Linked DNA regions of Homo sapiens: region 1 is linked to region 2. Evidence: fine-mapped expression QTL. Tissue or cell type: whole blood. Region 2 holds a variant in brackets; the other region holds the start of a gene. All regions are shown on one strand. Distances are between the middles of the regions.

Region 1 (8,092 bases), 120 kb before region 2:
GCATGGTCTCAGTATCCAAACACTTGGCATTTCTGGGGAAACTAGGAAATAGATTGGTTAATATGATCTTTGATATGCTTGAACTTAATATTGGAGGGGAAAGTAAGGGGGTGAGAGGTAAGGCAAGATTGGAGTTCATTTAGCTACTTTTATTTTTATTTTTTGAGACTGAGTTTTGCTCTGTCGCCCAAGCTGGAGTGCAGTGGTATATGATCTTGGCTCACTGCAACCTCCGCCTCCCGGGTTCAAGTGATTCTCCTGCCTCAGCCTCCTGAGTAGCTGGGATTACAGGTTTGTGCCACCATGCCCACCTAATTTTTGTATTTTTAGTAGAGACGGGGTTTCACCATGTTGGCAAGGCTGGTCTCGAACTCCTGACCTCAGGTGATCCGCCTGCCTCAGCCTCCCAAAGTGTTGGGATTACAGGCGTGAGCCACTGCACCCAGCCTGCTACTTTTATATCTATGTTTGAAATGTCCCACGACAGAGTGTGAAACAAGAATAAAAAGGCAAGCTTGGTCACTTTGGGAGACATAGGCAATCATGCTGAGAGAAGGGAACAGGGAAGAAGGTCAGAGAGGAGGGAAGAGGAAGACCTAATAATGGCATCCAAGTCCCGGTTCTAATGGTACTTGGGGCATCTTTGGATGCAAGTGAGCCAATAGTATGGGCTGAAGTTCTATCACTTACAACTAAGAGTCCTGTCTCCTTCATGAATGCAATAAACATGTTTGGGGGCAATTTTATATAAGCACGGTGCAAAGAAGCCCTTGTGTTCGCAGCCTGGGCATTGCGGAAAGCTTTTTGGAGTTTTTACTGAATTCTCTCATGTTCTTCTGTATGCATTAGGAAACAGGCTAGAGAGGACAGTATTCTGGAAGGTCATGATGCCAGAAGTGTGGGCCCCAGGACAGCCATGCAAAGTCTCTTCTTTGCCCTGGGCTGCCCTCTATTAGATTCTGAGCATGTGGGTCTAAAAGCCAGGAGAGAATTCAGCAGTTGTTGAGAAGCATACCCCTCTGCTGCTGGTCCCCTCCCTGCAGTGTGTTCCCAAGGTGGCCCCAGGCCTGTCTAGACGCTGGCTGTGAAGGGCACGCTCCTGTAGGGGCAGCCGGCTCTTCCACAGTGAGGTCTGTCAGAAAGCGCCCACGATAGGCAGGAATCCACTTTCTCATCTAATTTCCACCCATCTGTCCTCATTCTGCCCTTCATAACACCACAGAGTAATCCTTCTTCCCGGGACAGTTTTGCACATATTGGGGTTCTTCTGTCTTGTGCTCCACACATTGATTTTCTAGGCTGAAGACTCCCGGTGGGTCAACTCCCCTCCCACGGGATACTGCTGGCTGCCTTAGACACCAAGCAAGGGCATGGTATTCTAGATGTGTCTGACTAGTGAGGAATAAAAGAGAGTCCCCCCACCCCACCCCAATCAGTGCAATGCTTGCATGTGTAGATCCTAAGCGTGCATCCCTCCTTGGGTATAGAATGCTGTTAAACCAGTTCTGTCCTAATCCGTTCCCATTATGTTTCAATCCAAATGGGATGTGGAACATGGATTCATGGACCCCTACAATTGGAAAAGAGCTTGGAAAAGACTTCTCTAGTTTTTCCTGTAATAGTCACCAGCACTGAACCCGAGCACACGGTGCAGTGGGCTTTACCTGCCATTCTCTCTCCGTGCTCCCCAAACCCTCCAGGACGACCACACTGTCCTCATGTTGCAGGGTACAGAGGTTTGCTGAGGCCTGAGGTTATTTGGAAACTGCAGAGCTGTGAGTCAAGGGAGTCTATCAGATTCCAGGTCTGGATTCTTCAGCAAGAGGGTGGTGGCTGCCATGCCGTAGAGGGAGGAGGGGGTGCGTGCTCCACCCCACCCTGCTTGACACCAGCTTTGCCATCTTAGCCTTTGCTGGGCCGAAGCCCTATTCTCAGAGCTCCGGCACTGAACCACAGAAACCACAGGAGGCCCTAGAACGGAACTCTGAGACTGTTGGGCCTTTAACTCTGTGACTGTTGGGCCTGGGACTGGCTTCATTTGTAAACTCTGGCTCTCAGAGCCAGTGCTCAGCAGGAAAACAGCCTCAGGGCCCCTGCCCCTCAACAGCAGTCTGTAGTCCAGGGAGGTATCACCTGGCCTGGAGAGGGGCTCCCCAACTCCTCACATTTAGGGGAAATCTTAGCTGGTTCCGTAAGAAACTGTGTCCCCTTCTCAGGACTGTGTTCCTCAATAGGCCTCCCAGCCTGGCCAGTCACTGTGCGAGCCCTGTCACCTCTCCTGGGGGCAGAGGGAAGAGGTCTGGATGGAGCAGCACCATCTCTGAGGGCCCCCAGATCCCCAAACCCATGGGCTAGTCACAAACAAGTCTCACCAGCAGCCTCACAGGAGGACCATTTGCCATACAGAGTGGAAAATGATGAACGTTTGGCAAAAGGCTAGCACGGGGGTTCAGGGAAACCAAGACTCCAGGTGGTGCCAGCCCCTCCCCTGGGGAATGGGAGCAGCCTGGTGTGAAATATTCTTGCCCAAAGTCAGCAGCCAAGTGTTCTGGGTGCCACGTGCCTCACGCACACTGCAGGTCAGGTTCTCAGAAGAGCTGGCCCAGGGTCTGGGGGTGAAAAAAAACTGGGGGATTTGGGGGAGGCCTGGAAAGGGTGGGGTTCATCCAGGACCCCAGAAGGGGCAAGCTTGTCTATTGAGAGCTGGTGAGGAAGAGGGTGACAGGGCACCTCTTGGTCCTGGGAACGGGTGCTTGACTCAGCAGAGACCAACCCAGGGCTGAGGGACAACCCTCTGGGCCTGGCGGGGAGGCAAGAGAGATGGGAGGTGAGGAGGAAGGAGTGGGGAGCAAAAGTGGGGAGAAGGGGAGAGAGGTGGAAGAGTGTTGCGAAGGTGAAGAAAGAGGAGGAAAAAGAGAAGGGAGGAAAAGAAAGGTTGGGGGAGGGAAAGGAGGGAGGTGAGCAGGGGCGAGGAGGAGGGAGGAGGAAGGAGGAAGAAAGGGGCGGGGCCATAGGAGGGAAGAGAAGAAGGGGGAGAGGAAGGGGAAGGGAAAGGGGAGGAGGCGGGAAGGGAGGGGGAGCGGAGGAGGGGCCTGCGCGCCCGCCCCGCGCACTCCGTCCCCGCGCCGGCCTCAGCGCTCTCGCGCGCCGCAGCATCCCAGCCGCCGCTGCCGCCGCCGGGCCTCCCCGCCACCCCCTCCCCGGCCCGGCCGCCTCCCGCCGCTGCCGCCGCCGCCGCCGCCGCCATTCCTGGCGCCCGAACTCGCCCGGCCGGGAGCCGCCGCGGGCAGGACGCGCGCTGCAGGTAAGCGGCCGGGCTGGCGCGGGAGGGAGGGCGCGCGGGGCCGGGCAGGTGCGCTGGGGGCGGCCTGGACCCTCCGCGGAGCCCCCACTCCACACCCCTAGGCTCCTCACCGGACCCTCGGGGCCCTCCCCGAACCCCTGCAGGAGCCTCCTTCTGGGATCCCCGGACCCCTGGACTCCTTCCTGGATCCCCCCGGGGCCCCTCCTGGGACGCCTCCCAGAGACACCTACCCGGACCCCTCCGACCCCCTGGACCTCTCTGCTATCCCTCCCCGGCCTTCTCCCCTTCCCGGTTGCCTCCCCAGTCCCTGCGCGCAGGTGGCTCCTCTGGGCGCGGGGGAGCGGGGGCGCGCTGCATACCCGGGCCAGGGAGGGGGCGGTGCGCTCGGCCAGGCCCCGTCGCGCCCCGGCCCGCCCAGTCCGGCCCCGCCAGGTCAGGCCCCACTCCGGCCAGCCGGGCTCTGGCCGGGCCCCCGCGGGCTTCTATTTTGGTCGCGGAGGCCGCGGACCCTGTGCACTGGACCCGGCGCCGCGCACTCAGACAGGTGGGGCAGGTTGGGCCGCAGTGGTCAGGTCGCCGCCTTGGCAGTGAGTGCTGCAGGCCTCGGTTTCCTTTCGGGTTTTGGTTGCATTATTCTAGAACAGCCCAGGAGAACCACAAGCCTTAGCTTGGGCTGCACCTGTTGCAGCCGCCTAGTGAGCTGCAAGGGGCTGGCTCTACTGGGGTTATGCCAGTAAAAACGTGTAAAGGAGAGTTGAACTCGTGGTTGTCCTCTATTTTCTGGCTTAGTATTTTGGGGGGTAGGTGGGAGAGTGGGTGAATGGGAGTCTGTAAGTGGGCAGTTTGCGTCAAATGAGGCCTGGTGTCGAGGGCTGGGTCCTGCTTTCCGGAAGGTTTTCCACATGAAGTTGCTTTGCTTTTGTTTTGAAAACCTCACTCTGTGTTGAGCACATCCCAGGCTCGTGGGTGGCCAGGCCCCCGAAGGCCAAGCTGGACGTGGGGCCTGGGGCCAAGCATCTCACCCTGCTGTTCTGAGTCTTTTCAAATCCACCAGGCGCCACGGAACGGAAGTTTCCTTTCCTGGGGGTGACGTGACACCAGTGGCCTGTCACCTCATATGTGTCCTAGGCCTGGGGCCTGCCTGCTGGCTGCCCAGGCGAGGTTATTTGGGAATGTTTACTGTGTCCCAGAAACAGGCAGCTCTGGCCAGTGCAGGGGCAGGATTCTGGTAGAGATGATAATGCCCTGATTGTCATTTTGACAGTTGGTGTCTGCGTATATCATGTCTTGGTAGTCGTCAGCCAGAAGAAGAAAGCAGGCGGGCTCAGCATACCCACCAGGGAGGCTGGGGTGGGAAGATGAGGGATGCACTGGCCTGTTTCTGTGAGCAAAGACTGCCCTCCCATAAGGCCAGACCTTCAGACTGAGAAGAGTGTACGTGGTACACTCAGCGAGTCAAACAAAGAAATAGAAACACATCACTGGTGCCAGGAGCAGCCCTGGGGTCCCAGGAGGGTGGGCCGCTTAGGAGTTGGTAGACGGTGGAACTCAGTGGCTGTATTTCAGAGTGCAGACAGGCAAAAGGCCACCGTGGGGATGCAGAGCCCCAGCTGCCATGCCAGCCCAAGGTCTTGCAGCACAGCACAAGGGAGGGACTCCATGGGAGGGGGCCCACCTCCTGAGAAGCACACCCAGAGTCTGTTGAAAATGCAGCCTTGCACAGACCCCCCTGAGTGCCTGGGGTCCTGGGCTGAGGTTTAGAGTGCAAGACCAGCGACCATGTTGCATTTGATATCCAGTGGGTCTGGGGCCAGGGAGATGTCCTTGGTGACATCATCCACTTGTGGACAGTCCTCTCCATGTGGACCGCTGGAGGCAGATGTTACCTAGAGCCGCTTTCCCCACACCAAGCGGGTGTGTCTAGGCCAAAGCTTGGGAGTGCACGCTAATGGCCAGCTTTGACTGAGGAGGGAGGGAACGTCCGCTGCTGACAGCACAACAGCAAAATCAATAATGCATTGCAAAGATCAATGGTTTTCTCTATCTTCTGTGCTTCTGCATTGAGGCTGTTCAGGCTTCTGCCTCTCTTGGTTCCATTTCTGTTGGGGAGGGAGGGATGGGCGGGTCCAGGAGGGTGGTTGCAGATTCTCCTCCTGACCCCTGGAGCCAGAGCTCCAGGGTTGGAGCTAGGACCCATGGGGATGAAACTTGCCACGTGAAAATATAGAAATAAACGTGCCGTCGGCTGATTGTCGAGCCTAGTTGCTGAGAGAAAGGCTGCTGCCTGCTGTTCCCAACCAGGGCAGTTATTTCTTCTTTGAACTTGGACAATTCCAGGAAGAAGACTAGAAGGTGAGAAGGGAGGTGGCAGAGGCAGCTGGGGTGGGTCCTCTCTTCCCTGGGCCAGGGTCCGCCCTGGGCTTGGCAGGTGCAGTTCCTCAGCCCTGCCCATTGCATCCCCATCCCCATCACCATTGCCGTCCAGGGTCCAGGGCTGCTGGAGGAGATAGCTGCTGATTCAGTCAGGTGGAGAGGGTGTGCCAGGGCCTTCCCTGGAAGCTGGGTGGTGTTTTAGGTGCACTAGTTAAGGCGATCCTTGGGATAAGCAAATTGCTTTGCTGCTTGTGGGTCACTTTTCAGCTTCTGTGACCCTCCCTGAGCGAATTTGCCTTTAGCTGGGGGTGTCACAGCAGGGGCCCCAGCTTTCTACTGCCTTGCTGCTTCCCCTGGGGCATCAGCAGCCGCCTTCCCACAGCACCTGTGCAAACCTCAGTGGGGGGCAGGCAGGGTCCTGTTATTTGGTCCAGAAGTTTCAGATGCTGCCCATGAAAGCAATGACTGCATCCCTGCCCTGGATCACATCTAAGTGGCACCCCAAGATTTCTGGCTTCGATCAAAGCCTGATCCAGGCTGTCACTTGGATCAGCATTTGATCCAAGCATCACTCCTTTGAAAACTAGGCTATTGATGTGTCTCATGGACATTTGTGGAGTGAATGATGATTTTAAGGAATTCCTTAATCACAGCATCGTGGTTATGTTAGAATAACTTTCACCCTTTAGCAATAGATACTGAGTGTTGGTAGATGAAATGATGTTTGGGATCTGCCTCAGATTAGTGTGGGGTGGGGAAGCAGAGGGGATGAGAAGGGGCGAGATGGTCTGAGTGGACAGTTTGGGGTCTGGATGAGAGTACCTGGGTTCTTTGTTCTGTTCTGCCTACTTGCATGCACTTTGAAAATTCTCCATCATGAAAAGTTAATAATAATCGGAGATCTCCAATTCCTCCCTGTAAAACATGCCATTGGATTCTTTACTTCATGATGGCATCATTCAAAGGTTTACTTTAAAAGATATGCCAATCTATTAAGTAGAAATGTCACTCCTTAGTGTAGACTATAGAGAATGTGCCCTCTCCATGCACAAGTGCAGGCGCTCAGCACGGAAGCCCATCTGGAAGGACACACACCTGGTATTCAGCAGATCATTATGGAGCCGCCTATGTGGACCTGGTGCCAGGCGCTGCCCCAGGCTCTAGGGACTCAGCCCTGAGTGAAAGCAGCACTCCACAGTTAGCAAAGGGTGGGGCGTGTGTGAATGTGAGTGAGTGTGTGTTGGGGGAGGAGAGGGAAGAGGAAGAGGGAACCTATACTTTGTCTTCTTTTTGTACTTATGTATGGTTTGTTTCTGTTACAAGGAATTATTTTTGGAATATCAAAATGAATTTTCAAAAAGTGGTCTTCATTAGGTCATATACTTTCCTCTGGCGTTTTAAATAGAATTTGATTTGTGGAAGTTCATGTTTCTACACGTCTTAATAACAGATGAATTGGCTTCCATGAGGCAATCAATGAATCAATAGTTATTGATCCTCTGAATATGTGCTTTGTGGGCTATGAAGGATAGAAATCAATATGCTACTATCAGCATTAGGGGAGACAAGACAAAGACCCTGACAATTAAATAATAGTACAATCCAGCCACAGAAGGGTTATCCTTACACTCAGTACAGAAACAAAGGCCAAGTCTGGTCTGGAGCCTGCGCCAGAGGGGTCCCCATTGCTGGTTGGCTGACCTGGACCTGGGGCTTGTTCCAGCATTTCCTGTGGTGTCTTTGTTTTCTTCTTCCATTTAGTAAAGGATATGTTAAGTAACCTAAAGCTATAGCAAAAACATAAGTGATGCGTGCTGCATAGAAGTCTACAAAGTAAAAAGTAGAAATTGCTTAGAATTGTAACAGTTTTTGTATTTTCCTGATCTGTTGCAAGAAATTAGAGTTGCTTGAGCAGCCAGAACGTAATTTGCCTTGATGTAGAATGTGGGTGTTTGTTAGGCCTTCTGATTTGTGTGTGTGTTTTGACTTTGTTTGGAAGGACAGAAAGTTTCCCGTTAGGCCTGCAATTGACCCACTTGGTTCTCACTGTGAGTTTAGGAGCTTTTGTTTGTTGTTGTTCCTGACCGGTGTGTCCCATGTGCTGTGAGGGCACAGCCCAGTGCTGCAGCAGGGCTGTGGCGGGGCTCTGAGCCCTGGGCCATCTTTGAGGGCTGAGGGTCTTGGCACATGTTCATTGTTGTGCTGCCAGGAGCCGCCTGCCTTTGCGCCTGCACAGAACCACCCAGTGGGTGGATGCACATTCTTTTCCCCCATCTGGATCACACTTATCCTGTATAGCCCCCTCCTTCTGAGGGCCCACAAGGAGCTGAGCCATCTGGGCAGGTCACAGTGCTGGCACGTTTGGTCCCTGGTGGGTGATGCTCCTTTGTCTTAGGTTCCTGACCTGAAGGAACT
Region 2 (8,102 bases):
GGCCTCAGTAGGCTCCAGGTGGGGGTGGAAGGCCCAGCTCCATGGCCATGGCAGCAGGAAGTGGCTGTTCAGTGGTAAAAAGACTGTGCCGCCTGACCCCATCAGGCTCTCTCACGGTGATCAGCAAATGGAGAAACGGCCAGTACCACGCCCTCCCCCTGTCCTACAGCTGGGGAGGTGCGCTGTGCCTCCACCCTCACCTCCTCTCCCCTGATGACAAGCATGGGGTTTTGCTTTTTATTTTGGTAAATACACATCAGATGAAATTTGCCGTCTTAACCATTTTTCATTGTGCACGTCAGTGGCATTAAGAACATTCACGTTGTTTTGCAGCCATTACCACTGTCTGTCTGCAGGGTGCTTTTCATCTTCCCAAACAGAAGCTTTTTACCTGTGAAATACAAACTCTTCATTTTCCCCTCCTCCAGCCCTGGGCAGCCGCCATTCTGCTTTCTGTTTCTGTCTGGGTACCTCATATGAGTGGAATCACACAGTATTTATCCATTTGTAACTGGCTTATTTCACTTAACATAAAGTCCTCAAGGTTCCTCCCTGCTGTAGCAGGGGTCAGGGTTTTCCAAGGCTACATACTCCTCTGTCGTATGTGAATACCGCATTTTGTGAGTCCCGCATTTTGTGTGTGCGTTCATCCCTTGATGGACACGGTTGCTCCCACCTTCTGGCTTCTGTGAACAGTGCTGCTGTGAACGTGGGTGTGCAGATACCTCAAGTCCTTGCTTTCCATTCCTTGGGCGCACACAGCAGATGCGGTTTGCTCGGCCCTCTCTGAGCCCACCGAGTAGGCTGTGTCTGTATTTTCACCAGGACTCCTTGGGATGCTGAGCTACAGCTAGCGTGGCAGAGGGCAAGGAAGGCACTTAGACAGCTCAGTTGCCTCTGATCACGTCCACCGTCACTCCAACCTGCCCTCGGGGTCTGACGCGCACACACAGCAGCAGAGACAGAGATGGGAGCATGAGAGCTGCCTGCAAGGGGACAATCCTCAGGCCCAGGGAAGGCGGAGACAGGGGGCGTCGAGGGGCAGGAGTGCACAGGACAGGCTTGCTCTCAGCGGGCCTCACTCATGCTGCCAGGTGCCTGGTCAGGCTTTTTTTCTTTGCCTTTAAAAATTTTGTCTTGAAATAATTTTAAATTTACAGAAGAGTTTTGATGATTGCACAGAAGGATCTTGAGCGCCCCCACCTAGCTCCACATGTCCGATGTCTCACATAGCCAGTGTGCATTTATCTGAGCCAAGGTGCTGTCATGGTGCAGTGCGTTACCTGAACCCCAGACCCTGGACCCTCCTACCTCCCGCCCACCACATTCCTGGCTCAGCACCTCAGGTTGCACTGGACACTGCATCTCCTCGGCTTCTGCTCTGTTCCTGCCTCCCTGACCTCAGCACTCCTGGAGAGGAGTAGTCTGGTGTTTTGTGGTGTGTCTGGTGTATTCTTGTGATTATCTTGGGGTCGTGGTTTTAGGGGGAGCACCAAAGAGGGCGCTTTCTGGGGATGGGGCATCTGTATGACTCGCACCAGCGTGATGACCTTGGTCATTCTGTCCAAGTCACCACCGTCTTTTTCCATGTCGAGTGTGTCGGGGCATGTAGTCCACACTGGGGGTGGGGGAGAGTGAGCCCCACCTCCCAGGGGAGTCATGTGGGAAACCCCCACAGTCATTCATGCTTATTTGCAGGGACAGACTTGGAGGCTACAGAAATGCCCTGTTCTCCCACCCACTGACATCCACATCGACCAGTGGGTCCTGCCTGCAGCAGTTACAGCTGGCTGTCCTGACGACCAGTTCCTCCTTCCCTGTCCCCTCTTCCCTTCCACAGTCATCCCTTGGTCTCTGTGTGGCGTCGTTTAGTTTTTACAGCTTAGTTTCATTTGGGCTGCAGCCCAGCCCCATCCGGGAGAAGCGGAAGCTGGGGCTGAGTCTCCCGCAGGGTGCAGGAGGTGGTCTGGATCCCCTTGGGACAGGCCTTGCCCCCCAGAGCCCACCCCACCCTCCACAGCTACCCTCAAGCCTCTCTTTGGGGTGAGGAGTCAGGCGGGCCCCACTTGGCCACCCAGGGCACCCTGCTCTGCACTGCATGGTGTTCACGCCACCTCGCAGGTGCCCCCCGCGGGACCCAACAGGACCAGCTGTCCCTTGGAAGTTACCCAGCTTGGCTTTGCTGCCAGAGAATGTTTCCGCCACCTCCACAAGCCGCGCGATGCCCGAACTGTGATCTGGGATGTCATCCTCAATCCTTCCCACAAACGTGGCTCACACATGGCCTCATCTGCCCAGGTCTCTGCTGCTGCTGCTGCTGTGAGGCCAGCGGCGGGCCAGGTTCCCTCTGCTGTGTATTATCACAGTTTCCATCCTTGGGGGCTTTCCCTTTCTCTCGTGGGTCTGTGTCCGCACAGCTGGATGTGTGGCCTGGGGCTTCCTGTATTGGCATCAGGGCCTGTGATCTTCCAACCACACTCTGAAGTTGACTCCGAGCGTATCCTCTGAGGATGAAGGTCGTGTTTCATCTGACTGTAAACCACTAAGTCATGTGTAAATTTGGGAATCTTGTATTGTTAACCAAAAGGTGTCCCCAGGCTGTTGAGGCAGATGCCCTGGGCAGAGGCTAGAGAGCGCGCTCCACGGGCCACCTCCAGGTCTGTTGCACGCCCCCGAGCTTCAGGTGGGTGCACTGCATGTGGGGCACCCTCCTTCCAGCTGAGTTCCGTTCAAAAGCAGTCAGCAGCCCTGGATGCCTGTGTGCTGGGCACTGCTGGTGCCAGGTGGGCTGATGGGATGGACCTGAAGCTGGTGTCACTGGGAACCAAGTGTCCCAGAAGGTGGGAGAGTCTCACCTGCCCTCTGCTGTGGGTGTGGCTGCTCTGGAGCTCGGAGGTTGACTTCCCGTCTGTGAGCTCTTCCCTTTTACATATAGATAAGTGAAAAGCAAAAGGCATTGTTCCTTTTTTATGTTTTGTATCACGATCTCCTCATCCTTTGCATGTCGTCCGTTTGGCATCCCTGTTATGTTAGGCCTCTGCTGGATCCAGACCCTCACGAGAGGCTCCCCGCCCACAGGTGCTCACATTCTGGCTCGGGGGACGAGGTTGGGCTTCGAGGTGGTGTGCTTCAGCCTCTGGCTGCAGCCCCTTCTCACCTATAGTGAGGCCGGGAAGATGACCGGGAGTGCCAGGCTCATGCATCCTCTGCTGCAGGGAGGAGATCTGGAGGTGGGGACTGAACAGCCTCCCCACTGGCTAAGAGAAACACGTGCAGAGAAGCGCTTTGCTGGAGGGCAGGCACCTGTGGGTGCCCAGACAGGGGAGAGAGGGATTTGGACCTAAGGCCCAGTGAGCCCTGACATAGCACGTGGATTCTGCAGGAAGGTCACAGACCTGCCTTGTTTGCCTCTGGTTCTGAGTACCTCTCCTCCTTACTGCAATGTCCCCTGAAGGTACACTCTGGCTGCTTCCCACACACTGGTGCAGAAGCAGAGGCCATGCTCCTGGATGCCTGCTTGCCTGATGCTAGTTCTTCTCTGTCTCATACACGCAGGGCAACAGGTTTGTCTATGCTGGCTCTAACTCGGGCGTGGTCCAGGCCCCGCTGGCCTTCTGTGGGAAGCACGGCACCTGCGAGGACTGTGTGCTGGCGCGGGACCCCTACTGCGCCTGGAGCCCGCCCACAGCGACCTGCGTGGCTCTGCACCAGACCGAGAGCCCCAGCAGGTATGGGGCGGGATGCGCTGCCTGGGGATGTCCCCCATGTGTGTGGGTGAATAACACGTGCCGGTTGTTTTGCAGGGGTTTGATTCAGGAGATGAGCGGCGATGCTTCTGTGTGCCCGGGTGAGTGACTCCTCGACGTCCCATTTCCTTTGGGAGTGGCGAGGTCTTGTAGCCATTTCACGGTGCTTCAGTTCTGTGGCATTTGTGTGTGTTTTGTTTTTCTTTCTCCACTCGGAACAGAGGTCAAGTGTTCTGTAGCAGACTCGTGGTCTTCTCTGTCTTTTTTTCTTGCCGAAAGAGTACTTGAAGCCACTTAGAGTGTATCTGCTTACTGGGAAGCAGTCTCCTTCCAAAACCATCCTGTTTTCTTTCTGCTTAGCTTGGGGCTCATTAAGCAAAACCTAAGCCTGTTATAAATGGGGAGAAAGGAGCCCATGAGTGATTAATCCTCAGGCAGTGTAAGGGCTGGGGTGGTGTTTCCCCTGGGGCTCCCACCTGGGATTCACCCGCCTGTGGATGTCTGAAATAGCACCACACCCAGAGGGAGGGGTGGCATCAGGCCAGATGCCCCTTCCCCAGCAGCCACCTTCCAGGGTGCTAAAGGCAGACTTGACCCTCAGTTCTGTGTCTTCCTGACCCTGACAAGACAGCTGTCATCAGACTAAGAAAGGTTTAGGCAGCTGGGCATGGTGGTACACGCCTGTAGTCCCAGCTACTAGGGAGGCTGAGGCAGGAGGATTGCTTGTGCCCA[G/C]GGGTTCAAGGCTCAGTGAGCTTATCATGCCACTGCACTCCAGCCTGGGGTGACAAAGTGAGACCCAGACTCTAAAAAGAAAACAAAAGCTGGCCGGGCACAGTGGCTCATGCCTGTAATCCCAGCATTTTGGGAGTCTGAGGCAAGAGGATCACTTGAGCTCAGGAGTTCGAGACTACCCTGGGCAACGTGGTGAGACCCTGTCTCTACAAAAAATACAAAAATTAGCCAGGCCTGGAGGTGGTCACCTGTAGTCCCAGCTACTCTGGAGACTGAGGTGGGAAGATCCCTTGAGCTGGGGGGGTTGAAGCTGCAGTGAGCTGTGATTGCACCACTGCACTCCAGCCTGGGCAACAGAGCCAGACCCTGTTTCAAAAAAAAGAAAAAAAAGAAAAGTTTAGGCAGGAGGAGAGTGCTGAGATGCACTGAAAGGCCAGTCTTCCTTGCAGCCATTAGCAGAAGCGTCTCGTGTCTGATTCAAAGAGCTGACACTAGGCACAGAACTGGCCTCTGCTCAGCTTCCCCAGCCTGACGCGTTTTCTTCTGGGACACGGGTGAGAAATGGGATTTCTGCTGCTCAGAGCTGCCTCCAATTTCTTTGTCCCCATGGGCTGTCATCCAGGGCTCATCTTTGCTTTTTGGTCACGCATGTCTTTATCTCCTTAGTTGTTCTGGAAGATTCCATGTTGCTACAGTGGGTGAAACTCTTGCGTCATCTTGTGGGTATTTTAAAGAAGTTGTTAAATAGCAAATGGGGATTGTTGACGCTGTGCACGTTTATTTTGATGTTCCAGATAAAAGTAAAGGAAGTTACCGGCAGCATTTTTTCAAGCACGGTGGCACAGCGGAACTGAAATGCTCCCAAAAATCCAACCTGGCCCGGGTCTTTTGGAAGTTCCAGAATGGCGTGTTGAAGGCCGAGAGCCCCAAGTACGGTCTTATGGGCAGAAAAAACTTGCTCATCTTCAACTTGTCAGAAGGAGACAGTGGGGTGTACCAGTGCCTGTCAGAGGAGAGGGTTAAGAACAAAACGGTCTTCCAAGTGGTCGCCAAGCACGTCCTGGAAGTGAAGGTGGTTCCAAAGCCCGTAGTGGCCCCCACCTTGTCAGTTGTTCAGACAGAAGGTAGTAGGATTGCCACCAAAGTGTTGGTGGCATCCACCCAAGGGTCTTCTCCCCCAACCCCAGCCGTGCAGGCCACCTCCTCCGGGGCCATCACCCTTCCTCCCAAGCCTGCGCCCACCGGCACATCCTGCGAACCAAAGATCGTCATCAACACGGTCCCCCAGCTCCACTCGGAGAAAACCATGTATCTTAAGTCCAGCGACAACCGCCTCCTCATGTCCCTCTTCCTCTTCTTCTTTGTTCTCTTCCTCTGCCTCTTTTTCTACAACTGCTATAAGGGATACCTGCCCAGACAGTGCTTGAAATTCCGCTCGGCCCTACTAATTGGGAAGAAGAAGCCCAAGTCAGATTTCTGTGACCGTGAGCAGAGCCTGAAGGAGACGTTAGTAGAGCCAGGGAGCTTCTCCCAGCAGAATGGGGAGCACCCCAAGCCAGCCCTGGACACCGGCTATGAGACCGAGCAAGACACCATCACCAGCAAAGTCCCCACGGATAGGGAGGACTCACAGAGGATCGACGACCTTTCTGCCAGGGACAAGCCCTTTGACGTCAAGTGTGAGCTGAAGTTCGCTGACTCAGACGCAGATGGAGACTGAGGCCGGCTGTGCATCCCCGCTGGTGCCTCGGCTGCGACGTGTCCAGGCGTGGAGAGTTTTGTGTTTCTCCTGTTCAGTATCCGAGTCTCGTGCAGTGCTGCGTAGGTTAGCCCGCATCGTGCAGACAACCTCAGTCCTCTTGTCTATTTTCTCTTGGGTTGAGCCTGTGACTTGGTTTCTCTTTGTCCTTTTGGAAAAATGACAAGCATTGCATCCCAGTCTTGTGTTCCGAAGTCAGTCGGAGTACTTGAAGAAGGCCCACGGGCGGCACGGAGTTCCTGAGCCCTTTCTGTAGTGGGGGAAAGGTGGCTGGACCTCTGTTGGCTGAGAAGAGCATCCCTTCAGCTTCCCCTCCCCGTAGCAGCCACTAAAAGATTATTTAATTCCAGATTGGAAATGACATTTTAGTTTATCAGATTGGTAACTTATCGCCTGTTGTCCAGATTGGCACGAACCTTTTCTTCCACTTAATTATTTTTTTAGGATTTTGCTTTGATTGTGTTTATGTCATGGGTCATTTTTTTTTAGTTACAGAAGCAGTTGTGTTAATATTTAGAAGAAGATGTATATCTTCCAGATTTTGTTATATATTTGGCATAAAATACGGCTTACGTTGCTTAAGATTCTCAGGGATAAACTTCCTTTTGCTAAATGCATTCTTTCTGCTTTTAGAAATGTAGACATAAACACTCCCCGGAGCCCACTCACCTTTTTTCTTTTTCTTTTTTTTTTTTTAACTTTATTCCTTGAGGGAAGCATTGTTTTTGGAGAGATTTTCTTTCTGTACTTCGTTTTACTTTTCTTTTTTTTTAACTTTTACTCTCTCGAAGAAGAGGACCTTCCCACATCCACGAGGTGGGTTTTGAGCAAGGGAAGGTAGCCTGGATGAGCTGAGTGGAGCCAGGCTGGCCCAGAGCTGAGATGGGAGTGCGGTACAATCTGGAGCCCACAGCTGTCGGTCAGAACCTCCTGTGAGACAGATGGAACCTTCACAAGGGCGCCTTTGGTTCTCTGAACATCTCCTTTCTCTTCTTGCTTCAATTGCTTACCCACTGCCTGCCCAGACTTTCTATCCAGCCTCACTGAGCTGCCCACTACTGGAAGGGAACTGGGCCTCGGTGGCCGGGGCCGCGAGCTGTGACCACAGCACCCTCAAGCATACGGCGCTGTTCCTGCCACTGTCCTGAAGATGTGAATGGGTGGTACGATTTCAACACTGGTTAATTTCACACTCCATCTCCCCGCTTTGTAAATACCCATCGGGAAGAGACTTTTTTTCCATGGTGAAGAGCAATAAACTCTGGATGTTTGTGCGCGTGTGTGGACAGTCTTATCTTCCAGCATGATAGGATTTGACCATTTTGGTGTAAACATTTGTGTTTTATAAGATTTACCTTGTTTTTATTTTTCTACTTTGAATTGTATACATTTGGAAAGTACCCAAATAAATGAGAAGCTTCTATCCTTGATTTGGGGAAGACATTCCTTAGCGGAGGCTGTGCAGCCTCCCGCCCCTGCATGGCCCAGGCGGGACAGCTGGGCTCGCTCTTTTCTGTCCGTTTCCTGCTGTGTTTTGCCCTCTCTGGCCTGTGACGTGCTCCTGGCGACTTCTTCCTCAGTGCCCTCTCTTTTCTGTCCTCTCTGTCTCACAGCCTCGTCTCCTAAGCCCCTCCCTCCTCCTGGCTCCTCTTCCCTGTCCTGTCTGGGCCATGTGGGGGACAGGAGGCTTTCCTCTCCCTGGACCCCCTGGCCAGCCTCGGGTGCGGGGCCCGACAGCAGCTCGAGGGTCTCCTTGCTGCCGCCCTTCCTGAGTGACCAGGCACAGCACGTGCACGCCCTGGGGAACTTCTACCTCTTCTGCCAGGCCACAGGTGAGTTGGGCCCTCTCTGTCCCCTGTGCCCTG

What was found. PIP is the estimated chance that this variant, and not a neighbour inherited with it, causes the effect.
Region 1: SEMA4D starts here. The variant in region 2 is fine-mapped to the expression of SEMA4D in whole blood (TOPMed, PIP above 0.99).

The regions. Positions count from the first base shown.
Region 1 is chr9:89,493,131-89,501,222 of GRCh38, reverse strand. It overlaps SEMA4D (semaphorin 4D), which reads left to right and starts at 3,110. Exons shown (of 16, transcript NM_001371194.2): 1 at 3,110-3,304. RefSeq lists silencers at 3,021-3,210, 3,641-3,790.
Region 2 is chr9:89,376,800-89,384,901 of GRCh38, reverse strand. SEMA4D (semaphorin 4D) reads left to right here. Exons shown (of 16, transcript NM_001371194.2): 14 at 3,556-3,728; 15 at 3,804-3,847; 16 at 5,273-7,667. The coding sequence ends at 6,198. Among named protein-coding and RNA genes, the nearest start is that of SECISBP2, 62 kb to the right of the region's middle. The variant G/C (reference allele first, on the strand shown) is at 4,479.